Linked DNA regions of Homo sapiens. The protein of the gene in region 1 purifies or fractionates together with the protein of each later gene. This does not show direct contact. Each region holds a gene or a part of one and is shown on either strand. Other genes may lie near its edges.

Evidence for each region.
Region 2: the proteins of TSPYL1 (region 1) and ZNF687 purify together in Homo sapiens (affinity purification with mass spectrometry; 3 studies listed by BioGRID and IntAct, with this or other methods). This does not show direct contact.
Region 3: the proteins of TSPYL1 (region 1) and DDX24 purify together in Homo sapiens (affinity purification with mass spectrometry; 4 studies listed by BioGRID and IntAct, with this or other methods). This does not show direct contact.
Region 4: the proteins of TSPYL1 (region 1) and MRS2 purify together in Homo sapiens (affinity purification with mass spectrometry; 2 studies listed by BioGRID and IntAct, with this or other methods). This does not show direct contact.

What each region holds. Positions count from the first base shown.
Region 1 is NC_000006.12:116,276,842-116,284,792, forward strand, and holds the start of TSPYL1 (testis-specific Y-encoded-like protein 1), read right to left. Parts: upstream 3,090-7,951; 5' UTR 2,990-3,089; coding exon 1,676-2,989; 3' UTR 1-1,675.
Region 2 is NC_000001.11:151,285,217-151,292,371, reverse strand, and holds the end of ZNF687 (zinc finger protein 687), read right to left. Parts: exon of another isoform or gene 6,298-7,155; intron 6,098-6,297; coding exon of another isoform or gene 6,081-6,097; coding exon 3,966-6,080; intron 3,845-3,965; coding exon 3,666-3,844; intron 3,278-3,665; coding exon 3,101-3,277; intron 2,995-3,100; coding exon 2,832-2,994; intron 2,695-2,831; coding exon 2,365-2,694; intron 2,251-2,364; coding exon 2,138-2,250; intron 1,941-2,137; coding exon 1,799-1,940; intron 1,658-1,798; coding exon 1,163-1,657; 3' UTR 196-1,162; downstream 1-195. UniProt on the Homo sapiens protein: May be involved in transcriptional regulation.
Region 3 is NC_000014.9:94,057,203-94,064,202, forward strand, and holds part of DDX24 (ATP-dependent RNA helicase DDX24), read right to left. Parts: intron 5,420-7,000; coding exon 4,895-5,419; intron 3,865-4,894; coding exon 3,711-3,864; intron 3,412-3,710; coding exon 2,896-3,411; intron 696-2,895; coding exon 620-695; intron 1-619. UniProt on the Homo sapiens protein: ATP-dependent RNA helicase that plays a role in various aspects of RNA metabolism including pre-mRNA splicing and is thereby involved in different biological processes such as cell cycle regulation or innate immunity.
Region 4 is NC_000006.12:24,419,800-24,426,709, reverse strand, and holds the end of MRS2 (magnesium transporter MRS2 homolog, mitochondrial isoform b precursor), read right to left. Parts: intron 3,774-6,910; coding exon 3,660-3,773; coding exon of another isoform or gene 3,654-3,659; exon of another isoform or gene 3,233-3,653; intron 3,127-3,232; coding exon 3,016-3,126; 3' UTR 520-3,015; downstream 1-519. UniProt on the Homo sapiens protein: Magnesium transporter that mediates the influx of magnesium into the mitochondrial matrix and regulates magnesium metabolism. Also permeable to calcium, sodium and potassium ions.

The DNA.
Region 1 (7,951 bases):
AAGATATATCACTTACTAAGTTGTTACCAGGGAAAATTATCATGTAAGACAATCAATTAAACCATACTTTTGTAGATTATTTTTCCATGAAGGCAATTTGACAAGCCTAACAAAGACCAAGTTGTTCAAACTATGTTTCTAGGAATATAGTTTAACAGAAACAAGAACAAGTTGAAAACTGTTATGACTATTCATATGTCTCTATATTGTACAGGCAAGTAAGACTGTTGTTCTTCCAAATGTTCCCAATTGAAATCAAAAGAATATCTGTACAGCTCAATTTTCACAATAAGTTTAGAATCAGAAAAAAAAATTTTACTAAATCCTAATGAAATAACAATCTTCCACATAAATTAGGTCACAAAACAAGTAAGAAAGCATTCAAAGTTGCGCTGTCTTTCTTTAAAGAACCCTTGTCTAGGCAACATATTTAACACTTTAACCCCTTCAATTCTCCCTGAAAAGTATTTTTCCATTCATCATCATTGGGGAGTAAGTACTCCTTCCTCGAAAGCTCTTAACGACAGCACAGTCTTCACTCTAGGCCCAATTTTTACCTGGCCCATGCCTCTAGCCTTTTGTTCAGTTTCTCCTGCTTAGGGCACCTTTCATCCCATCTAGATGTGTCTCTCTTTAACTATTCTAGGAGTTGATAAAAGGGCTAGGAAGTAGGAAGTTGGGAAGAAGGGGAGGGGCGTAAGAGCTCTAGCACTCTATTTTACAGGCCAACTTCTTTGCCTCTGAAAATGACAGAGCCAAAATGAAATAAAAACCTTGCTTTTACAAATGTTTCTGAGCTATCACTTTTTTAAGAGAGGATTGGGAGGCTAAGGAGGGCGGATCACGAGATCGGGGTTCGAGACCAGCCTGGCCAGCATGGTGAAACCCCGTCTCTACTAAAAATATAAAAATTAGCCGGGCGTGGCGGCGCGCGCCTGTAGTCCCAGCTACTCGGGAGGCTGAGGCAGGAGAATCGCTTGAACCCGGGAGGTGGAGGTTGCAGTGAGCCGAGATCGCGCCACTGCACTCCAACCTGGGCGACAGAGCAAGACTCCGTCCTCCGTCTCAAAAAAAAAAAAAAAAAAAAAAAAAAGGAAAACAGGGAGAGAGAGGGACCTTGGCAGGAGCCAATGTAGGGCAGGTAGCAATAGAAAGTGACTAGAGGTGAAGGAAGAGCAATGAAGTACCATAAATCACACAGAACAAGTGGCTCACTGCTTTTCTCCTCTGAGTTCATTAACGTCCAGTAACTGTCCACAGGGCATGTGCCCATACTGCTCAATGCAGAGCTGAGTAGGTGGAACAGGCTCCCAAAGCTAGAAATCCAAGTGACAGCAACCAGTTCAGAGGCCCTGGGAATAAACAGGGTCCAAGCAGTGCAGATAAAGGCAGTACAATCTACAGTATCATTTGCTTGGCTTACAAGTAGTGTGAAGGATGACCTCGTAGCATGTGATATTCCAGAACAGCATGAAGGTCATATGGAAGTGGAGAAGCATACCCACCACCGTCTCAATCTTGAGGTTGAGAGAACTGAATATCCAAAGGAAACAGGGTGCAGAAAAGTCAGCAAAAACAAAGCACAATAGAAGGCATACTCATTGCTGATGCCCAAGCACAGGTCCAGCAGAAGGTGGTAGGAGACCTTGTGCAGGAGTATTCCCAAGGGCAAATGTTAACCAGACTGGAACCCAAAGGGCCTGGGGATCTCTACAGGCTCCCTTAGCGGGCGACGTCGGGCTCTACGGACTCCTTCACGCAACAGGTAGTATTGCAGTGGATTTGGCCACAGATCCTCTTTAATAATCTCAGCAATTTTGTCGGACTCTGGAAGGCTGTGGTCTGAAAACCAAGTGAAGAAGCTGCAGATGAGGTCTTGGTTTCTGCGAATGAAGGACTGGGGTTCATGCCCCCTGCGCCATATAATTGGAGTAGAAAGAGACACCACTCGGCCGGAGGATCTTACCTCATATTCCTTGACAATCAGCTTGTTTCTGAAGTAGGGGTTTCTTCTAAAGAAGAACTTGAACTTGCAACCGGTTCTAGGGTGTCTGAGTTCCTTCACCTCTAAATTGGTTATGTACCTTAACATCTCTGCATCTTGGCCCCTAATCATGGCGGACAACTGGGGGTGGTTTCGAAAAGCAGTCATCCAGAAGCCCGGGATATTCTGAATGATGTAGTTCCTCCGCTCCAGGTAGTGTCGACGCATCCGCCCAAACTTGTGCTCCAGCTGTTGGAAGGCCCTGTCGGCCTGAGCATTCACAGTGTCCAGTTCCAGCTGGATGGCCTCCAGAGGGTCCATGCGGAGAGCCTCATGCAAAGGCCAGGGCCCTTCTTCCTCCCTCGCCTCCTCCTCCAATCTATCCTCCTCCGCCACTTCTATTTCTTCACCTTCTGGCGGCTGCTCCTCTACCTCCATCTGCTCCTCCATTACCTCCTTCTCCGCCAGGCCTTCCTTCACCACCTCAGCGCTCTCCCTCTCAGCCACGGCTGCTGAGACGGTGGCGCACTTTCCTGTCTTCACCTCCTCCGCCTCAGCCTCCGCCCCCGCCGTCAGCTCAGACGCGGATCTCTGGGCGCCACAGATTTCTAGGGCCTTCTCTCCACCCTGAACGCCCTTTTTCAGGCTGCGGTCGGCTGCCATCACCACAGAAGCGGCTGCCAGGCCTTCGGCGGGAGGCTGGCCCTCTTCCTGCCCGGCTTTGATCGCCACATGACCGCGACCCCCAACAACTCGGATCTGGGGAGTACCGCCACGGCCCGCGGCATCCTGGGGTACGCCCCCCTCCTCTGAAGGCGGTGGAGGCGGGAGCGCGACGGTCTCCGAGCCTCCCTCACCCGGCTCCGCCATCACCTGTGTCGCCTCGCTTTGGTCGCGGAGCCTCAGGTACTGGTGTGCGTCCTGGTCGCTCGGGACTTGGTCAGAAATAATGATGCTGTGGGTTTGGAGGGGAGTGGTCCTCTTGACCCCATCCAGGCCGCTCATGTTGCTAACAGTCGGACCAACCGCAGGCGAACGCCCGTTTTCCTCAGAGGCCGAACTGGGAGCTAACCGCCGCTCGCACCGCCCACCCTACAGTCTCACTAACATTTCAGCGGCGGTGTCGTCAGGACTGGAGATCTCACGGTATCGCGAGAACTTGCTGAGCCCGGGATTGGTTCCGCCGCTCCCTGCCAGCCAACCGGATTCTCTGGGCTTTATTTCTGTGAATTTACCCATAGCAACAGTAATTTTACCTACGTAAATAAATGTCGATTGTGCTGAGTCTGGAAGCGCGGACGACCCACCTTGAGATGCATCTAGCGACTGCTCCCAGCATGTAGGAGCAGTTGTAAAATCACAGCCGTAACAGTGCCTGCTCTCCAGTGTCTGAAAACAAATGTTTTTCTGGTCTTCACTTTTTTGAGGCAGGAAGGTAAATCTATTCCCTGTTACTCCACGTAACTAGCAGCAAAAGACTTCTCTTTAAGATTAATAGCAAAATGTTTCCCCCCTTCTTAGTAAAAGTGACATAAAAATATCAATTCTTGCCTCTACGGTTACTGGGGAAAAAAAGCTACTCAGCAGCCTCTTACCACTAAAGCGATGCATAGTATTCATTGCTAATTTTCGATTTATAATCTGCATCAAATAAGAGTTTGTGCTGCATAGTATCGGTAGAAATTAAGCCAGGATCAGTTTGCTAAATGTTCCATGCCTTTTCACTGCAAGAAAGAGGAAATTATAACTATTTCCAGCCCCAAGAACTTAATTTATTATCATATTTAGTTATGTAAGATAGGAATGTTTGGCTCTAACGAAGCATCTGTCTTTAGCAATCAGCTGAGTTCATTAGAGGGGGATGTCAATGTCTCTGGTTGAAGTGTTCCAGTTTGTTGACTTGTGAGTTAAACTGGTGCTGTCTTAGAGAGCTACAAGGCCTCAGAGAAATATCAGTGGGGGGAGCCACATACCACCATTTTGTGAGGAAAGGCTAGTTAAAATGGACAACTAAGATGGCCTTGAAGTAGAAAACAAACTTGCAAAGGGCAACATGCAGCTGGTGGACTCAAGGTATAAAAGAGGCAAACGTTATTTTCTACTTAATTTGCTTTGTGTGGTAGTAGCCTGATGGCCCTCAAAGATGTACCTGTCTTAGTTATGCGGCCAAAGGGACTTCGCAGATATGATTAAGTTAAAGATTTGGAGATGAGAAGATGATTCTGGATTATACAGGTGGGCCCTATGGAATTACAAATTTCTTATAAGAAGGAGGCAGGAGGGTCAGTCAGAGAAGATAAGAGGACGAAAGCACAGAGAGAGGGAAGGAATGGTGGAGAATAGGTGTGGGAGGGAGGAAAGGGAAATCGCTATGTTGCTGGCTTTGAAGATGGAGGAAGGAGCCAGGATCGTAGGAATAAAGGCAGCCTCTAGAAGCTTGAAAGGTAAGGAAATAGATTCAATCCTAGAGCCTCCAAAGGAATGACAACACCTTGAGGTTATTACCTCTAAACTCCAGCACTATAAGAAAATAAATTTGTGCATTTTAAGCTATTAAATTTGTGGTAATTTGTTACAGAAGCAATATGAAATGAATACACCTTGGATTAAGGTTTGGTTGCATCTATGGGTGCCTCAAGTTGTTTCTAATAGCAGCCCCTTCTACCTTGCTCATGGCTTCCCGTGAGTTCCTGCCCAACAGCTGTGATGTATTACAGCTTGAATCTGTCTTTCAATATCAAGACCAGAAATATACTTAGGCAAATGCACAGAAAGACAAAATTAAAGCCTAAACATACCACAAACGATATCTGAGGAGACTGTAAACTGCAAGAGGACATGATCATGGTTTCGTTTCCCTCTGTTTATCGAGTGCCTAGCACACTACCTTACACAGTATCCCATAGATTATTAAAATGTTAAATAAAGGAGCAAATGAGCAGAAAACAGTTTCTCTTGCTTGCAACTTGCTCCTTGCGGAAGAGAAGTAAGGGGCATATGGGTTGTCACTCTGCTCTCCTTCCTATCTGCCACTGGCAAACCAGAGGGCTGCTCTATTCTATATAGTAACAGTTTCCTACTCAGGAGAATGAATTTCTATATATGTTTCAAAGGCTCTAAAAGGATAGGAAAAACACAGAGAAAACAATTTTATTTTACAAATAATTTAAGTTTGTGTGGTCACACTGTATGACAAACGAACTCTGAAAAGACCAGCATATTTAGGTGAGTTTACATATCAAAGCCTCGGACTACCAGCACTGTATTTCCAATTCTCTCCTTTCTGAAAAAGTCAAGGTAATCATTTCAGGCTTTACTTCGTTTCTGTCTACAGAAATATATAATGCATTTCTCTCTACAAGTGATGGAGCCTGTGATGCATGGCTGGAATTACTTTTGGTGTAAATAAAAAGGAATATTGGAACTTTCCACAAAGACTGTTTCTAATTGCCATGAAATCATCTTCTATTTTGAACTGGTATAATTTCATTCGGCCTAAAGTGGAAACTTCTATTATTCCAATATGTCTCCTATTTTTTTTTAAGCAGAAAGGAGTGTCAGGCTTGGACCAATCTTAGAATATATGGCTTTATTTGTCAAAGAAGCCATTATGTAATTAATGTAATTAACACTCTTACCAGTAATGCTAGGAAAACTCTAATTAGGATCATGTAAGTATAATCAGGACTCTGCTGAATGTAATTTCCCCCAAATAACGTTGAGACTCTTTAAAGGAACTCTTCCTTCTCTTCTTGTCGAACATGTATAAAGCTGTGATAAGGAATATTTGAATATATAGAGAACGTGATTTAAAATTAGAAGTAATGTATCTCATGTTCTCTGTGTATTAGAAGAAAATTACATTAGAGAAGTGATTGTGATTATAACTATTCCTTGTAGGTGATGGAAAGCTCAGGTTATGATTGCTTTCGGACAAGTGCTCAGGAGAAGGGTCAGTAAAGGGCAAGGATTTTAGAGGGAAAAGCAAATATGCATACTTTATGTCCTATTTTTTTTTAAAGAAAGAATCTTTGCTTGGAAGGAGGAACTCTCTAGGAATGTCAACATGCACCAAGGCTCACGTGCTCAGGGAGTTATTTTGCCATACAGGCAAAGCTGTGGTTGCTATTCAACACAGAATATTGTACTTATTATAGTAGGACTATTACTTGTGGATTTTTTGTTCACCTTTTTGTATCTAAAAAGGCTTAAAAAGGATACCTGTTTCTTTTACATGACACAGGTTATCCTGCTATCTGGGAATTCTCTTTCTGGGTAGATGTTACACATTCTCTAAGACTTACCAAAAACCTGTCTTGCTTTAAAATGTGCTAGGCATTTTACATGCATTAAAGTGTCAAATTTCATAAAAGAGGAAACAGTAACACTGAGAGGCTAACTAACTTTACCAAAGTCATACATAAAGTAACTGGTAAATTCTTTCTCCCTTCTCCTGAGTGCATCTTTCCTAAGTAGCCTATGGCTCCTTAATCTTCCTCACCTGAATTCCTGCAACTCTTTTATGAGCTGCACCATGCAGTTTAGCACTTAATTGTGCTTCTCCTCTTAGGGACTAGTTGATTTATATGTGTCAGTCTCATCATCCCAGCATTCCAGCATCATCTCATGGGATGGGAGCATAGTTGCAGCTTCTTTTGCATTTATTCATCATAGCATGGGGCTCAGGTTTGGGTAGATTCTTTGTTGTTGTTGTTGTTGTTGTTGTTGTTGTTGTTGTTATGGAGTCTCACTCTGTCGCCCAGGCTGGAGTGCAGTGGCATGATCTTGGCTCACTGCAACCTCTGCCTCCCAGGTTCAAGCAATTCTCCTGCCTCAGCCTCCCGTGTAGCTGGGACTACAGACACTGGCCACCACACACGGCTAATTTTTGTATTTTTAGTAGAGAAGGGGTTTCCCCACGTTGGTCAGGCTGGTCTCGAATTCCCGACCTCAGGTGATCCGCCCGCCTCAGCCTCCCAAAGTGCTGGGATTACAGGCATGAGCCACTGCGCCCGGCTAGATTTGGGTAGATTCTTAACAATATTTGTTCATTTGAATAAAATAAACCTCAAATTATCTTACAAAAACAACAGTGTATCTGTACTGGCATATTTTATTTGCAGAGGAAATACATTTTGGCTATGCTTCATATATCACCTTTTTTGCACTTTAAAATATAGGATAAATTGGTCCATGACAGAGCATTTCTGTAATTGACAATAAACTTCACTACCCCCAAAGATAGTTGAATCTTTTCTAATACAGTTCTATGGGAAAACATCTGCAAAAAACCCTGAGGTTTTTCTCCATAATATCAAGGAATCATAGATTCTTTGGGAATGATTTCTCAGGTAGCAAGGAGTTTAGCGGAAGTTCAGACATTTTTGTTTTGCAGAAAGGTAGGTTTTATCATTATAATTAATGATAGCTTTCACTTATTTACTGCTCCTGATGTACCAGCCACTTTTATAAACAACATCCAGTGTGTCACATCTTTTAGTTGTCATAAGAACCCCATGAGGTAATTGCATTTATGACCTTCGTGTTACTCAATAGGAAACTGAGGCAAAGAGAGACTGTCACTTGGCCAAAATGGTACAGAAAGTAATAGACCCATGATTCGAACCCAGAAAGTTTGTCTCAAAAGCCTGTACTCTCTGAACAAGTGTGAACTCACTTTCTTTTTTTTATTATTATTATTATACTTTAAGTTCTAGGGTACATGTGCACAATGTGCAGGTTTGTTACATATGTATACTTGTGCCATGTTGGTGTGCTGCACCCATTAACTCGTCATTTACACATTAGGTATATCTCCTAATGCTATCCCTCCCCCCTCCCCCCTCCCCCAACCTCATGATAGGCCCCGGTGTGTGATGTTCCCCACCCTGTGTCCAAGTGTTCTCATTGTTCAATTCCCACCTATGAGTGATAATATGCAGTGTTTGGTTTTCTGTCCTTGCAATA
Region 2 (7,155 bases), on another chromosome or scaffold:
CCTCCCAGGGACCGACCCCTGGCCCAAGCTCCCCTTGCTGGCGGGCGCTGCGTGGGCCCTGCACTTGCTGAGGTTCCCCATCATGGGCAAGGAAGGGAATTCCCACAGCCCTCCAGTGTACTGAGGGTACTGGCCTAGCCATGTGGAATTCCCTACCCTGACTCCTTCCCCAAACCCAGGGAAAAGAGCTCTCAATTTTTTATTTTTAATTTTTGTTTGAAATAAAGTCCTTAGTTAGCCACTTGTGTCATTTCCAGGTTTTCTGGGGGAGTGCAGGGGGAGATGGGTGATGAGGTATGAACGGATGCCTCAGTGTCCAAGATACAAAAGGCACTACATAGAAGTTTGCTTTTTCCCTGCCTGTCTTGGTCACTACCACCTCTTCCCTGAGAAGGGCGGGCCTTCCATGTTCTCTCACCCGCTTCAACTCCACATTGTCCAAGTCACAGAAAAAGAGAGGCCTGAATGGAGATTCGACCACAAACAGTTTTAATGGTCTGGTTTTCTCCCTAGTTCCCCAACTGTTTGTTAGTATTATTATTACTACAAGAATAAAGGATTCCTGAGAGCCTGTCCCCTCCTCTCCTGTGGCCCCCTTGACAGGACTCATCCCTACCAACCCCCCACCCCCCCGCCCCGGATTTCTGGGGAAAAAAAGAAGTGAAAGGCACTGCAGGGGTAGGGGGCTTGAGTGCCAGTGAGTTGGGGTTGGGCGGGGGCGGGGGCGGGGGTGGGCACTAGGGCAGGGCCCGGCCTAGAGGAGGAAAGTTCCAGTCCATGCCTGAAGGAATTGTGGAGAGGTGTGTCCATCCATGACACCCCCATCAGTCCTTCCCTGAACCTGTCTAGCAGGCATACCTAAGTCCCATCCTCCCACCCCCAGGCCCACACTGGGGGTTCTGCAGCAGGAGCATAAAATTAATTAGTGTTGGGCTCAGAAAGGAGGAATGGAGGGTCCACTCTACTAGGACTCCAGGGCCAAACCCAAAGGGAGGTTGCAAATAACTAGAATAATCCTCAAATGCTCTTCTTCTTCAGGTTGGAGAGACAGGAATTAACAAAATATTAATGTTAATGAAAACTCCCCAGCCGAGGGATCAGGCAGCAGTAGGGAAAACCAGGCTCCAAGAGGAAGGGGCTGGTCAGTCCCAGGCCTTGGAGACTAGTTGTCCCCAACAGCCCCCTGCCGAGCCCTGATGAACGCCATGCCATGCGTGCGGAAGTGGGTCTTGAGGTTTAGAGGGCTGTCGCAGCTCTTGCCACAGACCTTACAGGTCAGTGGGCCTCCAGAAGCAGGCAGGGGTGAGTCTCCACCATCGGGGTCAGACCTTGATGGAGGGGCCTCTTCCTCCCCATCCCCCAGCCCCAGGGCACTGGCTTTACCCACACCCCGTCTCTTCTTGTGGCTGATGAAACGGTGTCGGCTCAGGGAGCCAGGGGAGGCAAAGCACAAGCCACAGTCGAGGCACTGCTGGGCACCATCCTCCACCCTCAACCCCATCATGAGGCTCTGTTCTGTGGAGCTGCTGCTCCGGTAGCGCAGAGGGCCATGGCCTCCAGATCCAGGTCCGCCCCTGGGGGACTTGGCTGGCGGTGTCGTGCTGTCAGGCTCCTCACTGCAAGAGTCAGAAGACTGGCGGCGTTTCCGACCTGGCCCCTGAAGAAAAGTGGAAGAAACTGGGCCTTACCACCACCCCTACTGTCCCTGGCACCCCCATGCTCGCTTCCTGAGGCCATGGTCTCTGCCTTCCAGTTTCCCACTCAAAGCCCTAGCACAGCAGGCCGGGCCTCTGCCTACCTGGGCTCTGGCACTGGAACCCCGAGCCAAGGTGGTCCCCCGGCCAGGGGACTGGGCCCCAAGCTGCAAGCCGTGCCGGACCTGGACATGTTTCTCTAGGATCAGGCGGCTGCTGAAGGTGCGTTTTCCCTCTGTGCAATACCTGAAATGGGAGAGGACAGGATGGCAGCAGCGGCACAGCCCGAAGGCCAGGGCCCTTGCTTCTGAGGAGGGGGCTGCCAGAGCAGAGGGAGACCCCAACCATCAGGCCACTTAGACACGTCGCAGGTGCACAGGTACTTTGGCATACAGGGAGAGTCACGTGCTGGGCAGGAAGAGGAAGCGGGGAGCAAGACTTACCTGCAGGGGTAAACTCGCTTGATGCCCTCGTGATTAACTCTGACATGGCGCCTCAGGCTGGGGGCGGAGCAGAAGGAGCGCTCACACAGGCGACAGGGGAACTTTTTCACTGACTAGGAGAGCAGGGGTAGATGTCAGAGCCAGGCTCCAGGACCCCGTCCCCACTGTCACACTGGCAGTCCCAATGCTGCCCCCAGCCCATGGTACTCCCCTTGGGGCCCACTCACCTTGCCATGCTCCTTCTTCATGTGGGCCACGTATTCATCACGCTCAGGGAACCAGGAGTGACACAGGCCACAGGTCCAGCCTCCAGGCCCCCCACCCCCACCCTTGAGGCCTTTGCTCCCTAGTTCCCGCCGAGGCCGTTTGGCTGGACGGGGGGGCTCAGGGGAGCTGGGTACTTCCTCCTCTTCTGAAGATGAAGACGACTCCTCAGTAGCAGGGGCTGCCCCTCCCTGAGAAACAGCCAGCTCCTCAGGCTCAGTCTTGGGGGTCAGCAGGGCACCCCCGGCCCCTTTCCCAGCAGTCTCCTCCAAGCGCCCAGACTGATGGGTGTTCTGTGAGAGGAGACAAGGGAGGTTGCTGTTGTGGGGGAGGGCCTGGCTATGCCAAAGCCCCCCACTTCTGAAGTATGTGGCCCCAGCCCCAGGTCAGTACAGCTAAGCACCCATTCCCCATCCCTCTGCTCCTGTACCTTGAGATGTTCCAGCATGGTCCTTTTTTGGGCAAAGAGCAGAGGACAAGACGGGCACTTAAAGACACTGACACGCTGGGGCAGCAAGTGCTGGTCGAAGTGTGAGGAGAGGAGGGGTTTGTGAGTGAAGACTGTGTCGCACATGGCGCACTTGTAGATCAGCCTGAAGTGAGGACAGTGCAGACATCAGGCAGGGTTGGGTGCAGCCCCTCCCCTCCTGCGCCCCACCAGCCCTCCCTGGCCCAGCCCGGCCCTCCCCCGGGCCTCACTTGGCCTGCTGAGTTTGGAAGCTGGGATGCTGGGAGTAGAGGTGGGCATGGGCACTTGGCCCAGACTTGAAGGCCATGGGGCAGATGGGGCACTTGTGGAAAACCTCGCAGTGCGACGTCTGGATGTGGGACTTGATGGAGTTCACACCCCCAAACACCACTGAACAGCTGGGGCACCTAGGGAGGAAGCAGGAGGCCCTGTGGTGAGGTGGGAGGCATCTCCATGCCCACCCCGGGACCATACATTTATTCTCTGGGACTGGGTAGACTACAAGAAGGAAATCAGTAGTGGAGCATGAGCAGGGTGGAGAAAGGAGAGAGGTGCAGAGGCTGTGCCCCAAGGGAGGCTGCCAAGGGAGAGCTGGAGCTCCAGAGGTGGCCCTGCTTCCCCCCATCTCCATGGGGGACGACGGGAAGGCAGGACGTACTATCTCAGGGTTGAGTCTGGCAAAACAACAGGGCTGAGGGATATAGCAGGGAAGATAGGGGATCTTGAAAGGCCATCTGAGGCTGAGGCTAGGACACACGAAACCCTACAGTTCTATGGAGGAAGGGTCCGAGGCACCTGTATCCTACACGGCGAGAGACGTGCAGACAGGCCTCCCGGAGATGGGTCTGAAAATTGGCTTGCAGGAAGTTGCCCCCACACTCAGGACAGACATGGGGGGGTCGATTCTTATGCATGCGCTGGTGGGCGCTGAAGCTGCAGCGATTGGGGAGCATCATGGGGCAGGTTGGGCACACCTGTCGAGTGGGTTAAACAAGGAAAGTCGGTGAGGAGTGTCCTGTCTCCATTACTTCTAACCAAGCCCCCAACGCCTTCCTAGATCCTGTCCCCACAGAAGGGCTGTGAAAGGTGACTCACATTGCTGGTGGCCCCAGGGGCAGGGGGGCCGAGCTGCTGGAAGTGAGCTGCCATGCCAGCCTTGTCCCGGCACTGTTCCTTGCACTCCAGGCAGCGAAAGCATGTGTAAGCAGAGGTGGCCGGGGCAGCAGGCGGCTCTGTGGAGAGCGGCAGGACAGGGGCCTCAGCAGCAACTGTAGTAATGGCAGAGGAGGTGATGGCCCCCTCACCCTTGCCCAAGGCAGGCAAGGCCAGAGGTCCAGAGACAGGTGGGACAGCTACAGGCAGCAGCGGTGTGATGTCCGGCTGCCCCACCATCTGGTCAAGGGCTACAGGCCTCATGACCAAATGTGAGCACTGCATGACGAGCCCCTTGTCCTTGTGTTCACGTGCATGCAGGAGCAGGCTGCACTTGTTGAAGAAGACCAGGCGGCGGGCGCAGTGGTTGCAGGTGACCTCGATGCGCATGCTCCGACGGTCATAGTGCCGTGCCAGGCTCTTCTCCAATGAGAAGGCATCCCCACACTCCAGGCAGCGGTAGCCGGTGGGAGGCAGGGCCAGCCCAGCCTCAGCTGGTGGGCTCAGGTTTGGCCTATAGGCAGGGAGCAGGTTCTTGCTGTTGAGGATCTTGTTGAAGGCCTCCACCAGGCTGGACTGGGTCCGTGATATCACTGTGCCGCCCCCTGTACTTGGCCCAGTAGCTGTCTTTGAAGGTTGCACCATCACCACCGAGGCACCATTCACCTTCTGTCCCCCAGTCCCCAGCCCTGCCCGCCCGTCAGCCTTAGGCAGGGCTTGGGGCACCAGGCCTAGCACGTTCTTAGCAATCATCTTAGGGCTGGTGGCAGTCCCCCCAGGCAGCACCACAGCCTTGCGAGCCACACTGGCTGCCATCAGCATGGCAGTACTGGCGTTCTGGATGGTGGCCACAGGCAGCACAGTGCCTTTCAGCCTTGTACCATCACCCAACTGTACGCTCACCACCTTTGGACCCTCAGAAGTAGGTGTTGCAGGGGACAGCTTCAAGAGGCTAGCCTCAGCCAAGAAGGCCCCCTCAGCCAAGGGGGCAGGTGGATCAGGATCTGAGGGGACCTGAGTTACAGTCCTTGTGATATTCCCGCAGGATGTTTTAATGGTCTTGATCCGCACCTTAAGAGGCCTAGAGGAGCTGGAGGCAGGGGAGTCATTGCTGTCCTCATCTGCAGCCTCGGCCCCACTAGAGGGACTCTGGGGACTTCCTGGGGAAGACTTGTCCACTGGCCCCTCATCATCATCTTCTTCCTTCAAGGGCTGACAGACGGGCACTTTGGGGGAGGCAAGAGGGCTCTGGTGCCCTGGAGACTGCTTGAAGAAGGGCACCCCAGCAACTGGGGGAGGCGAGGCACTGGCAGGGATGTCCGTGGCCTTAGGGCTGGAGCCTGAGCCTTGTTGGGCTAGGACCTGGGGATGATGGGGGCTGCAGCTCTCCTGCTTCAAGGCCCCCAATGGTGGGGAAGAAACAGGTGGCTGCATGCCTGGGCCATTCTCCTGGGCCAGCTCAAAGGAAGAGGGGAAAGGAGGCGGGGTCAGAGCCCCCTCCCGAGTGGGAGAGGGTGCAGAGGGAGGCAGCGGATCTGAGTGGTCCCCTGGCTCAGGGCCAAAATGAGCAAACAGGTCCAAGGGAGTTTTGCCTTCCATGCCTTTTTCTTTCCAGGTGCCCCCACTGGGAGGAGCAGGAGAGTGGGGAGTTCCTGGGAGGGAAGGTTCAGGGCTCCCAAAACCATTCTGCATTCGATGAGGCCCCACAGGCCCTTCTTTAGTTACCCCAGCAGCCTGGGCCCCGTCTCCTGCTGAGCCTCCAGCCAGGGCCTCAGACTGCTCGGGACACACAGTGTTCTTGACAATGACACTGACTACAGAAATGTCTGGCGGTGGCAGGCCATGGTCAGAGGCCTGGGCTGGAACTCCAGGGCCATCCCCAGCAGAGGCTGCTGCTGTGTCTTCAGATTCACTTCCTACACCTGGTTCTGGCTTCCCTGGGCCTCCAGGCCCCTCATTTTCTTCTGGCCCAGAATGGATGGCTTCATTCGCATCAATGTCAGGGATGTCAAAGGCAGCAAGGAGGTCATCAAAATCAGGGGTCTTCATATCCCCCATATCGGCAGATCCCAGACCTGATGAAAACAGGAACGAGGAGGAGAAACTGAGATGTCTAGAAGAGAGATCCTGGAGCTCTTCCCTCAGCATCTCCATATTTATCCTCTCTCAGAACCCACATACACTCCAACTTAGGTACACCTCCGCCACGGCATGAATCCTACAGAGCTGCTAGGTTTGCCAAACCTTAAAATCAGAAGAGGATTAGTGTCCATACCTTGGTGGGCTCCAAAATCCAGAGAAAGCAGGGGAAAAGAGAGTTCTTAGAAATACAGGGAAGGGGCCAGGTGCGGTGGCTCATGCTTGTAATCCCAGCGTTTTGGGAGGCTGAGGCAGATGGATCACTTGAGGTCAGGAGTTTGAGACCAGCTTGGCCAACATGGTGAAACCTTGTCTCTACTAAAAATACAAAAAACTAGACAGGTGTGGTGGCACATGCCTGTAATCGCAGCTACAAAGGAGGCTGAGGCAGGAGAATCGCCTGAACCCATGAGGTTGAGGTTTCAATGAGCCAAGATCACGCCACTGCACTCCAGCCTGGACAGAGCGAGACCCTGTCTCAAAAAAAAGAAATATAGGGGGCTGGGCATGGTGGCTCACGCCTGTAATCCCAGCACTTGGGGAGGCAGAGGCGGGCGGATCACGAGGTCAGGAGATCAAGACCATCCTGGCCAAGATAGTGAAACCCCGTCTCTACTAAAAATACAAAAATTAGCTGGGCATGGCAGCACACACCTGTAGTCCCAGCTACTCGGGAGGCTGAGGCAGAAGAATTGCTTGAACCTGGGAGGTGGAGTTTGCAGTGAGCTGAGATCGTGCCACTGCACTCCCACCTGGGCGACAGAGCAAGACTGTCTCAGAAAAAAAAAAAAAATACAGGGAACAGGGAAGGGTAATAGAGCTCAGTGAGCATTCTGGTGGAAACCATCTCATCCCCTCCGGTCCCCAGCATAGAACCAAATAATCAATACTATTATTAAGGAGGATGATGTACATGATGTTCTAGGTTTAAGGACTCATTCATGTCCGCATGGAATCAATTCATATTCTTCACGGATCTTCTGGGGTCCACACA
Region 3 (7,000 bases), on another chromosome or scaffold:
AGTCTGGCTCCGGTGCCCATACTCCTAACCAAAATTTTATGCTGATATTCACTAGATGCACACACTAATATTACTGCTACTATCAATGGCAGTTAACATGAGTAAGTGCTTGCAATGTGCCAGGTGGCTTCTTAAGCTCTTTATACTTAGTAACTTATTTTACCTCAGTAAGAACCCTAAGAAGCAGGTACTCACTGCCATTTAATACATGAGAAAACTGAGATACAGAGAGATTACATGACTTGTTCAAGGTTACACAGCTGGGATTTGAGCCCAGAGAGATCTAAACTACCACACTCTTCTATTAATACTTCTCTACATCAGGGTAACCAATTACATGCTTAACTTATGCCCATTTCACAGAAAAAACTAAGACTCTAACCTGACAATATCAAGTAGCTTGGAGAGAAGGGCTACTTGACATGAGACAAAGCAAGGTTTTCTGGAGACCAAATCTCAGCAGTGTTGCAAAAGTGGGAGTAGTGGGCACTCGATGCCAGTGGTATTCTCTGATGCAAGAGCCTTGGAACCAACAATTCCTCCTCCCTCCCCCAACCTTTGCCTTAAAAATTCCCCATTCAGTGCAGGCAGATGCCTATAAATTTTCAGATGCCCCTACCTGGTAATGGATGACATGCTGGACTTTAGGAATATCCAGACCCCGAGCTGCCACATCTGTTGCCAAGAGAACACAGCTGGGGTAGAGAGAGAAAGCTTATTAATAATAACTAACAGCTATCTTTAATCAAATTCTTACCAACTGCTGAGCATCCTAAACATTACAGTCCTTACCAATACTCTGTAAGATATCACTTGTATACCCTTTTACAGAAAAACTGAGGCTCGGAGAGATTAACTTCCCAAGCTATCTACATGGCTATTCAGCTGTGGAGTCTGGATCCAAATTTGGGACTCATTGACCCCAACCAACATGCCATACTCTGCAATGATAAAGACTCCCTTCAGTGAGTTAAATGAGGCCATACATATTCTGGGTCAGTGACTCCTCTCCTAGCACCCTCTCATTTACTTCCTCCCAGTGGCACACAGACTTCCTTGCTCTTCCCCAAACAAACCAAGCATGCTCTCACCTCCAAGCCTTTGCACTTGCTACTCCTTAAGGCCTTAAAGGGTCTTGCCTCAGATGTCCATATGACTCACTTCATTACTTTCTTCAGCTCTCTGCTCAATTCTCACTTCATCAGAGACTGACCACACATACCCAATCTCTTTTCTCCAACCCCTGCTCGACTTACTTCTTAGGATCACTTGGCAGACTGTGGGCTTACTTTGCAATTTATTATCTCCCTCTACTAGAATGTAAGCTTCATGAGAGCAAGGACTTTGCATTACTCACTGCTGTTATTACCACCACAGAGAACAACATCTGGTTCATGGTAAGCACTTGATAAATGTGTTGGATGATGTTTCTCAATGTGTGGTTCATGGAAAGTCAAAAGTACTTGAGGTGCTTCAAAACATAAGACTCTGGCCCTTCAGGGTCCTCACTCCCTGCATGTCTGAGCTGAGGCCGGGAAATGCAATGCAAATCCTAGTTTGTAAAACATTAAACTACTGCTCTGGATCAAGGTCAGCAAACTTTTTCTGTAAAGAGCCAGAGAGCATTTCCAGCTTTGTGAACCACACAGTCTCTATGGCAACTATTCAACTCTGCCGCAAAAGAGGATATTGACAATACATAAATGGGTCTTGCTGTGTTCCAGTAAAACGTCTACTAAAAAAACAGGCAGCAGCCAGGTGTGATGGCATGCACTGGTAGTCCTAGCTACTTAGGAGGCTAAGGTGGGATTGCTTGAGCCCGTGAGTTCAAGTCTAACCTGGGCAACATAGCAAGACCCCATCTTAGAAAAAAAAAGGGCAGCAAGCAAGATTTGGCACGAGGCCTATAGTTTGCCAAGCCTTGTTCTAAGCTAATCTCAGTAAACCACTGATACTACTTACCAATTTTTAAAAACCAGTAAATCAAACACTTGTTCTAGAAACTAATTACCCCATGACCTGACAAAACACTGGCAAAAGACACTTTGTAGTCTGCCTCAACTTTCCAGGCCCTCATCTTGACAATCTGCACCCCATTCCCTGAGCATCAGTCTGGTCCAAAGGCAGATGGACAAAGACATCAGGAATAAGAAATAGCATGGGCTCTGAGGTCCGACAGGCTTGTCTGAGGCCCAGCTCTACCACTTCCAGGCAGAGAAACCTTGGGCACACTGATCAGCTTTTCTAGACCTCATTTTTCCATCTATAAATGAGAATAGTGATAATGGTAATAAGTAGTAAAGGGACTAGAAATTATTAAAGCTAACATTTAGCAATATATACATACTATGTGCTAGAGACTGTTCTAAACACTTTACACGCATGAATTTACAATCAATCTTCATAACAACCCTAGAATGGGTTCTATTATTATCCAAATAATGAGAAAATTAAAGTACAGAGAAATTAAATAACTTGACCACCTAAGGAGTGACAGAACTAGGATTTGATTTCAGGCATTCTGGTTCCAGGATCTGTGCTCTTAACCATGAATCTATTCTGCTTCCTCTTAAGGATGTTAGGAGAGTAACTGAATGTGATTCTGAATCTAAAGTGCCAGCACAGGACCTAATCTATTGTCTATACATTCAATATTATGTATTGTCACCTATATTCATTAGTATTGAAGTTTCTGTATGGCATTTAACTGCAACCAAATTCACTAAATGACAGTAACCTTGCCAAATGCTGTGCAAAAAAAAAAAAAGGCTACCTACTACTGAGACAAGGCCCCTATGACAGAAGGTGGCTTTTCTACCATTTCCCCACCATCCTGACCCCTTTTACCCCAGTAACTAACTAGAGGTTAAGCCTCTGGGGACAGTCCTAACTTACTCTTCCAGACGGGCAAACTGCTCCAGGTTTCTGAGCCTCTGCTTCTGGTGCATACAGGCATGCAGGGTCAAGGGCATGATATCAAGGACTTTGAGGAGCCCAGAGAGGCGTTTGATGCAGGAGATACTGTTGGCAAACACTAAGCTGCGGCCTGGATACTGCATCAGGAAGTAGTACAAGTAGAAGTCTTTCTCATCAGTCTCACAATGGATCTTGGTCTCTGTTAGCGTCTCCACCGTGGCCTCATTCCTTGTGAGGTCAATGACCTTGGGCTTGCCCCTCATGCCAATTTTCTGCATAAGGAGGTCAAGTTTGGCTGTTTTATCCATTTTCTTGGTGTGCTTCTTATGAAGGATTCGAGCAGGAGCCTGATGCACCAGGGTGAGTGTGGCAGAAAAAACAAGCGTTTGTCTCTTTGGGTTGTATTGGGAGTCATTGAGCATCTCTAGCAGCTGTGAGAGCTCAGCAAAATGGCCTTTCTCAACCATCCGGTCAGCCTCATCCACTACCAGGCACCTGCAGATCCAGAGAGACCCATATCATTGGTCAGCAGCGGGTTAAGAGGAATCATCTATAGCACACCCTACACTCATCCTAAACACACACACACACACACGTACACACCCCACTACCACCACCACCATCAGGCCCTCAACTAATCTCCCTCATGCACTCTTGGCTTTCTAAAGGCCAGGGTCTGGATGATACCACACCATAGCATTCTGCGATGAGAAGAAGGCATTGCCCACACCATGTCACCTAAGGCTCATTTCAGAAAAGGCAGTGAGGGGGAAAAGAGAAGTGCCATCTATTACCTGAGCTGCCGAAGGTTCCTCAAATGATAATGCTTTTCTTTAATTAATTCCCACAGCCGGCCTGGAGTAGCAACCACAATCTCAGGACGACGGTTCAGCATCCTCTGCTGTTTCTGCGTGGACATTCCACCAACCAAAATAGCAGTTTTAATTCCTATGGGACAGAAAACATAAGGGACACTTATTCAATCTGGGTGATCATTTTCTTACATGGCTGACACAGGCACCCCAGATTAGCAGAGACAGACATCAGCACAGTGTAATGCCCTAGAGCATTGCTAAAAGAGCAGGCCTGGCCAGACTGTTGACGCCACTCCTAGAGGGCTTACCAAGTCTTCTGTGATCTGAGCTCTACTTCTTCAGCCTCATTTCTTTTCTACTCCCTCCCCTCCAACCACACCAAAGGGGCTGAATTTGAACCCAGGTATGCTTACCTCCAAAGCTCTGGGAAAACGGAGCACTGGGGCACCATAATGCTGGGAGGAATATGACCTGCAGCTGTGCTACACCTCTCCTAGGAAGCCCTTCCATTCCCTCAGTTAGAATTATTCTGAAAGGTCCACTAATGCCCTGTTGTTTTCGTCTCTGGTGCAGAAATTCTCATAGTATCATGTGGGTAAAGGGCTTAGCAATAGTAACAACTTGGTAATTAATTGCTGCTTTCATTATAAAATTAAGATTCCCAGAGTGAAGCCCTTCCCAGAGTGAATTCCCTGAGAGAATTAAATCCTAATAGCTTAGAGCAGGGATCAGCCAACTTTTTCTGAAAGGGTCACTAGTGAACATTACTGACCTCATAGGCCAGATGGTCTCTGTCACAACTATTAACTCTACTCAACTTCACCTTTGTAGTACAAAACCAACCACAGACAATATAAAACCAAATGGGTGTGGGTGTGTTCCGGCAAAACTTTATTTATAAAACCAGACAGTTTGCTAATCCCTGCCCTGAGCATCTACTGTATCCAATAAATTTCCTATGCATCCACAATGGCACCAACCATGTATTATCCTTGAGGGAACTGAAAAAATGTCACTATATCAATTTTCTGTAGGGCTTAATTGTCTGGCTTATAGATGAGAGTGGCTTACCCTAGAGGGCAGGAGCCACAGCTCATTCATCTTTACCAACGAGCATTTGGGATTTACCTAGAAAATATTTATTAAATGGAACTAAACCTCACCTGTAAACCTGGCCACAGCATCAATGTGCTGTTTGACCTGGACGGCCAGCTCTCGAGTGGGAGTCAGAACCAGTCCAAGCAGAGGACGCTTTGGATATGCCTTACAGGTGGCGCTTTTGTCATCCAACTCCTGTTTTAGATTTCCAGTCTGCTCTTTATCAAGATTTTCCTCCTCATTCTCATTCTGTTTGGGAACAGGTTTCTCCCTGATCAGGGAAGAAGGCCCTTCACCAGCATCATCGTCACCAAAGAGCAACGCCTGGTCTGAGACAGTGCCTCCAGTCTTGGCTCTGGCCTCGGCTGCAATATCACTGGGCAGTGCTTCACTCTCAATTACAGTATCGTCAGGCAATGCATCAGACTCAGCTTCAGCCTTGCCTGGTGATCTAGTCTCAGCTCCGGCCTCAGTTCTGGTCTCTCCAGGTGGTGCTTCGGTGTTACTTGGAGGAGGGGCAGCATTCCTCTTCTGCCACTGCAACACCGCATGAATCATTGGGATGGCAAAGGCAAGAGTTTTCCCACTTCCTTAAAAGTAAAAAAACAAAACAAAGTAAAAACAGTGTGAATCAACAGATGAACATACTTTAGTCTGGAATTCATTCTTTTGCATAGAATAAGGTAGCCAAGTGCCACCCTGACCGACCCAAAGCTCCTCCACTCTACACAGATTTCCCCAGAAGGAACCAGAAGGCACATGTAAATTAGAACCCGAGGAAAAGTATGGCAGGCTAGCACTGAGGTCTTAGGTCACCAGTAACGAATTACAAATGTCCAAGAAATGAAACAATAAAGAGAGAAAGGGCAAGTTTTGGGTGTATGTGTTGTTTCTGTGAGGAGCAGGAAACAGTAATCCATACAATACTTTCCCAAGACTTTTCTTTGGTGAGAAAGGAGTAAAAGAAAATTTTCTTAAGTTTTCAGAAAATGTAAATATAAAACTTTTGTCTATGCCTGAACATTTTCAAACTGGCCTTTGAATGTACACAGAGTCCAAATCATCTGGGTGGTCAAAACAAAACATCTCAGGCTGAGAATTTAAAGAAGTTCCAAAGTGATAATGCCCTAGGCAGAAGCCAATAAATGCTTTCTCAAGGGAGAAACCATTACCATACATCTCCAAAAATTTTCACAATTTTCAAAGGAAATAAGCAGCTCTCAGTAAAAAATAACCACACACACAAAAATAAGATACTATAAGGAAAAAAGAGAGCAAAAACAGACACATGAAACTTTTGATAAGAAGAACAGCAGACTTATCAGAAACAATGAAAAGCCAGAAGACAGTGTAGCAATATTTTTTATTTGAATGCCTAAAAATAAAACCCTGACAATCTATAACCCTACACCCACTCAAAACAAAATGTGAAATAAAGACTTTAGGCATATAAAAGCTGAAATAATTCACCAGCAGCAAATGTAAGCTATCAGAAATATTAGTCTTTCATGCAATAGCAAAGATAACATAAAATGAAAATCTGGATGTACCCAAAGAAATAAAGAGCAACCGAAACAGTAACTACGTAGGTAAATATTTAAAAACTTCTTTTTATGGCCAGGCATGGTGGCTCATGCCTGTAATCCCAACACTTGGGGAGGTCTAGGCGGGAGGATCAAGACCAGCCTGGGCAACATAGTGAGACTCCCATCTTTAAAAAAATTTGCCAGGCATGGTGGCACACTCCTGTAGTCTTCGAAACTTGGGAGGCTGAGGCAGGAGGATTGCTTGAGCATGGGAGTTTGAGGCTGCAGTGAGCCATGATCGTGCCACTGCACTCCAGCATGGGTGACAGAGGGAGATACTGTCTCTAAAAACAAACAAAAAAACAAAACCCCTTATTTTTCTTATTTAAACATCTTTAAAAATAATTGTTTAAAGCAAATATAATAAAAATGTATTCTAGAATCTCTAACACATATGAAGTATACAACAAAAAGCACAAAGGAGGGGAGAAATGGAAAATACTCTTGTAAGGTTCTTACATTGTATGCGAAGTAGTAAATTACTTGAGGGTAAACTATAATAAAAGATATATACTATAAACCCCAAAGCAATCACTAAAAAGACGTTAAGAATTATAGCTAATAAGACAACAAAAAAGATAAAAT
Region 4 (6,910 bases), about 92 Mb from region 1:
AGCACTCTGACATCTGACACTTGAGTAAAGGGATGTTTTTCTCAGTACTGGGTCTTTTCATTAGACGGATGCATTTATATAGTGTCAGTTTTTATGCTTCACTAAATGATAAGGCCTCTGTTTAAACATGACCATTATTTACCTCACGATTTATATTTTTCTCAATGCCTGAATACACCCAATAGCAAGCACCAGGTGGAGGTTAAGACCCACAAAAATGGAAGCAAGCTTCAAGTTTATAGGACATTTAACCATACTAACCCCAATGTCAAAAACAATGTAAATTATACTCCTACTGTAAAAGGTCAACTGATATGGCACGTATGTAAAAAACCTGGCATACAGGAAAAAATTAATGCATGACAGTCTAATATATTATCCTGATACATGGATTAAATTTTCTTTCCACTAAGTATTAACTATAGTTTTAAGCATTGATTCTGCTTAATAACTAAAATGTAAAGACCTTACCTTGTAGGGTTGTAATTTCTCATTAACAGAAATCTGAACTTATACAAGTTTAACTGAAATTTATCTTTATTTCAAGATATCAGAAGACATTTACATATTTGCATTTTCTGTCTTGCTACTATCTGCGTATATGTAACAGCTTTTCTCAAGGCTTCAAGATAGGAATTGTTTTATGCCTTTGTATCACAGACCTAAGAGACCAAAATTATTTGAAGATGGAGTGGGGACAAAACTAGGGTCTCTGCAGTCCCTACTCCATGTACCATCCATTAGCTCACCTCTGTAGGTATTACTAAAGTCATGAGAGTTAAATCCAACGTGCAACTTTAATATTGCAATTCCAAAAAATAAAGCTGTATACAACTCTTGGAATAACTCACCAAAATAAATAGCTTTTTAATATAAAATTGGTTAGTGCTGCTTAACAGTCTGTGTTCATGAAGAATAAGGTGTTAATAATTGTGCTCACATTTGTTTAGGAGCCTTCCAAAGACAGTATCACACCTTGACGTGTTCGACACTTGATGTGTTTGACAGGCGATATGATTGCTTACTCACTCACATAACCCAGTGTTTGGTACCTACTTTCAAACAGTAATTAATGTGCTCAGTCCATTTTAGTTCAAAATTTAAAACCAAGGAACTTCATATATTTTTGGCATAAGCTGATTTATTATTTATGAGAACTTTAGTATAAGAAGCATCCTGCAATCACAAAAGTGGAACTAGTTGATATTTTGAAATCATACTTGATTTAACCACCTTCAGAAATTCTATAAAACACTAGCAACTTCCTTTTATCAGACTTATGAGGTAGTTACATTATTTTTCCTTTTATTGACATGATTCATCAAAAAATTATTTTATCCAAGCTCATAAACTAAGTCAATAAAACTGCAAGGAAAAATGACAAAAATTCTATCTTATGCCTGATCTTAGTCAAATCAAATGTTGCCCTCTGGGATTCCAATTCTTCATGTCACAGTTAAGTAGTACTTATTATGTATTTTACAGTGATACGACCCAAAATAGCAGCAGTGTGCTCTGAGGTGTGCCAAAAGTGTGCCCTGTGAAATATAAGTATTATCAAATACAATCTTAAAAATCCTAAGAGATTCGTAATGCTAGAGGGTGCTGTATGTTCACATTCCGACAAGAACACCATGACGCGTGTTCCTGACCCACAGTGTGGTGGCACAGGGGCCACTGCGTGCTCGAGTCTAGCCCAGCCTGTCCTGTTCCATTCTGTTCTGCAGCTTCCCTCTAATGGCTTCCCATGACCACACACAGGAGTGGGGAAACCTTACTTGTACTTCATCGGTTTTCTTCCAAATCAGCGACGGGAGTAACATTTTTATTCCTATCACCAAACCACCTGAAAAATGGACTCCTAAACTTCCTCATATGACATCACATTAGGCTAATCATGTACCCTCAATATCATCAGGGTAAGTGTATTTATTCTGTTATTATTACATTTGTAGTGCAAGAGCTGGACACTCTAGAATCTTCCATGCACACTACTTTGGGAGGCTTAACAAATGTTCTAGTGCCTAACTGTACTTAACCTCCAGAAAATATTTTAAAAGGTAGGTAGGATGTTAAAGAGGATGGCAGCTTTCAGGCTTACAAATATTAGCCATTTGTTTTAAACCCAAATCTCTGTGGAAATGAGAAGATATCACAGTTCTAACATTTATTCATCCTCATGTTTTAGGAAGCTCATCTGTCAGCTTCTGAGGTGTAGGCATATAGATTAGCAGGACAATAAACATTTTTCTTTTTGGGGCAGGGCAGGGGTGGTATCTAAATATCTACTTTAAAAATCAATAAATGGACAAAGTGCTACAAAACAGTAACAGAATGGAAATACTTCCTTTCAACTTTGCTTCCAAAGGCTCTAATTACAGAGAGCAAAGAAAACTAGTCTCAGGGGCTGAGAACGTGAAATCTTGATTAGGAATCCATACAATGGTGATATTAAATTATTTCTTTTTATTCACCTTTTATAAAAAAAAGGGGGCAAATACAAGAAATAAGGTTATGTCAAAGTTTGGTTTTTAAAGCTCAAACTTACAGAGTCTGTTGTAAGGTTAATACATAGAATGCTAGCTTTTTAGTCACCTGAGAATCAGGAAATTCACATGAACATAATTCCCTATACTGACAAAGAACTATAGCTACCTATGGGCTTGTCAAGTTCCTACGCTTCATTCAGCATGAAATTGCACTTTTCTTGATATGTATAAATTAAAATCTATGCAACTGTCTGTGCTTGTGTTGCCTCATATCACATCTATAAAAACAGCATTTAAAGTTTGTAGGAAATAGAATTTTGGCCTTTTACAAAGCAAATACTTTGTTTCTTTAACTCAGAATTCTGGAAATGCAATCCAGTTCTGGTATTGTGACTGCCAAAATATTTTTGTCTTCAAACATTAGTTTTTTTCAAGTGTCTGACTCTATACAAGAAAATAATAAAAAGAGTATCAGAAGTTTCCTGTAACTACCATAAAAAAAACTTCAGTATCCACGGGGCTGTTCCTAACGGTTTGTTAGGATGCTCCTTCCTGATCCAAGTCCATCCAGTCTGAGGCTATTTTTCAATTCCATGCTTCTATCTGCCAGAAGAGTCTTTTTAGGTAAAGAAGCCATCTAAATAAAGCAGAAGTATTAATTTTAGTATCTTTTTTAAAAGAAAAGCCACTAGTAAAATGATGTATTATGTAACTACTCAGTGAAGAAAGGACTATAAGCAGTATCAGTGTCTTAAGTATTTATTCCAGTGGTGCCATCTTCAAGTACAAAGAAAATGGAGGTGAATTTTCTATCTTTTAAGAACGTTATAAATGTTTCCTACATTTCCATTTGGTTATGACAAACCTTATACCAGAATTACTAACATCTGTTTAAATGTATGTTGTCAGAGTTCTACACAAATTATATTTCTAACTTATTGTGTTAGGCAGTGTGCTAGTAAGTGCTTTACACATATTGTTTAATTCTTCCCATAACCCTATGAAGCAGGTAATACCGACTTAACTGACAGATAGGGAAACTGAAGGAAGTTTGAGAAAGCAACTCGCAAGGGCCATAGTGCCTGTGACAACTTAATCCCAGGCGCTCTGACTTTAGGGCCCATGATCATAACCCTTCCACAATACCGCCGTGAACCATATCCTTCATACCATAGGAGGCAATGGAGCTTCTAGCTGTCGTCCAAGGAATGAAAGCAGGCGCCTCCAGATGAGGCCACTTCCCATGAACATAATTCCTGTAATCAGCCAAAAAATTCTATGGTCCTAAAAGAGAACACAGTTCATTTCCATCGCAAAACGCCAGGTTCCTTAGAAGATTCCTTGAATTGTTACTGCCCCAGAGTTTGAAAGCCTTATGTTATTTGTACAGCTCTTTCCTGTAGAAAGGAACTAAGAAAAACAAGGGCCTTGATAGCACCCACAGAATAAAGCAGGAGAAGAACATGATTTAAAAGGTTTTAAATATTTTAAAATCATCTATATGCCAAATGTACTGCTTTTACTTTGTGTTTCTTTGCAGCCTTTGTTTACATGCGTGCAAATCTTAAGTCATGATGCCAGAGGACACGCAATTTAAGGTCTTTGCTTATATCCACAGTTCTCAAACTGTGAGCTGAATGTCTGGTGCTATGCTGGGCACGATAGCACCTCAGAATATTTTAAAGTTGCAAGGGAAATAACATAAAGGAATCTGTAACATAATAAATTTTTTGTCTTCCGATACTGTGAAAAAATTACTAAGACACTAAGGGCATCGTGATCCAAGGAAGTTTGGGAACCTCAGACTTAGAAAAACATTCTTCCTCACCGTCATTTTCAGAGTGGTAATATTTTGCAGCACACTGTTTTTAGTTAATGTACAGAATCACAGAATTTAAATTTAATCTCTCACAAGGAAGGAATCCCATTTATAGCTATGCTGTTATCATTGGCTCCAATGATTGAGAGCTCACTTCCTCAAAGATAGCCTGTTACACAACTGATCAGCTATCACTGATGGAAATGCATGTCACTTATTGAACAGAAATCTGCCTCCTCTTTTTGTTGTTGTTGAGATGGAGTCTTGCTCTTCACCCAGGATGGAGTCCAGTGGCTCAATCTTGGCTCACTGCAACCTCCGTCTACCTGATTCAAGCGATTCTTGTGCCTCGGCCCCCCTGAGTAGCTGGGATTACAGGTGTGCGGCACCATGCCCAGCTAATTTTTGTATTTTTAGTAGAGATGGGGTTTCACCATGTTGGTCAGGCTGGTCTCGAACTCCTGGCCTAAAGTGATCTGCCCACCTTGGCCTACCAAAGTGCTGGGATTACAGGTGTGAACCACAACCCCCAGTCCTATATGCAATATGTGATCTAAGATTTTCTTTGTGATAAAAAGCACTACTGAGATAAGTGGCAAAATCTGAGTAGGGTCTTTAGATTGGAAAATAACTTCAGTATTAACTTCCTGATTTTGATAGCTGCACTGTGGTTATGTAAGAGGATGTCCATGTTTTAGGAAATACGTATTAAGACATTTAGGAGTAAAGGAACATCACATTTGTTCTTAGTCTCAAATAATTTAGAGAATAAAGTATGCTAGCAAAGAAATGATAAAGCAAATGTGATAAAATGTTGATATTTGGAATCTGGTTTAAGAAAATGGAAATTCTTTGACTATTCTTGGAACTTTTCCAGAAGTCTGAAATTATCTTAAAATATTTTTCCTATCTCAGATTCACCATGGCAAATATTAATTTTAACTATATCGAAATAAAGACATTTGACATCCATGGATTTAATGTTTTCAACTATTCTTCAGGACACCTACAAAGATGTGTAATTTGTAATTCTGATAAGACATTAATTTGAATCTTTTCAGCCTACTACTGAGCAAGCGTAGCTCACTACCACCTACCACTCTTATCTCATTACAAATGGGCTGTGCTGTACCTAGGATTGCACATACTAAAACTATAAGAAAGGAATTTGAAAAATCTTCCATTGTTTTGAAAAGTTGGCAATTAAGTGAGAGAAAAATATCAAAGTATAAAATGGAGTTAGCTTGTAGATTGAGTATATATACATAAACATGATTATGTATTTAGAGAAAAGACAGGGACTTGTAGAGAAAGTCCTGTAGTCACACTTAGGGAATCTGTAAAGGTCTTTGGATGTATCTTTTGAGAATGTCAATGGCTGGATTATGTTGCACAAGGTATTCTGCTTGCTTCTGAACTTTCCAATGATCTAGATTTGAGTTCAAACCTCCAGTGGGTTCCTATCCCACTTAGAAATCCAAACCCCTACCACGCTCTACGTCACTGACATGATCATACTTATCTGCATCTGGGACCTCATTTTCCACCTGACTCATGCTCTTCTAACCATTCCAACCTTCTTGCCATTTCATGAACAAGCTCAGATCGTTCCTGCCTCAATCTTTACTTCTGTGGTTCCCTCTACTTAGAACACTCTCCCCCAGATCTTCCTGCCTCCACCAGGGTGTTACCGCCTTACATCTTCCTTGACCACCCTATCTCTAAAATGCCACACATCCTACTGCCTAACATTCTCTATCCGCTTCTCTGGCTTTATTTTTCTCTGAGGCACTTAGCACTTAACATACTTTGTTTGTTTATGAACTCTCTCCTCCACTACAATATAACCTACGCAAGGGCAGACTCACTGCTAAATGGGCCTAAAGCAGTGCTTGGTATATAACAGGCAATAAAAAAACGTATTTGTGAGATGAATGAACACATGTATTTCCTTTTCTTTTATACTTTACATTAAAAATGACTAATACTGTCTTTGCTTCAAGGAGCTCATGCTCTTTTGCAGGCTTTGAACAAGGGATTGCAGATTTAAGGAATGTAGCAGATGGAAGGGTAGGATTATTTGGGCGCAGACGACAAAGTAACTTTACTGGGCCAGGTTGTCGGTGCATTCAGTGAAGGGACAACTACTTTGAGACCTGAAAGATGAGGAGGAAGTAACTAAGCAAAACGGGGATCTGAGGGGAGAGGAGTGGAAGCAGCATGTCTGGGAAGGACACTGAGAGAGGTAGTAACAAGTGGCTACCCACAAGATGGACAAGTCGGTGCGGCAGGACGGGATTTTTATCCTAAGGCTAATCAAAAGCCATTGAATAGTTGTATGCAGAAGGGTGTCATAATACTTACATCTTATAAAGACCACTTTTTAAAAGGGCATAGTGGTCCTAATGGGAGGTGATGTGGGCAACAGAGTAGACTCGTTAGACTAATGAGGACACAGAATCCAGCATCACACTGTGCCAGATGCACATCCAGGTTCAGTTCTAGAAAACTTACAATAAGCTATTCTGTGAAAACACAGTCAGTGGGTTCTGTATCTGCAGATATGCAAGGTTGACTGTACTGGGTCATTTTATATCAGAGA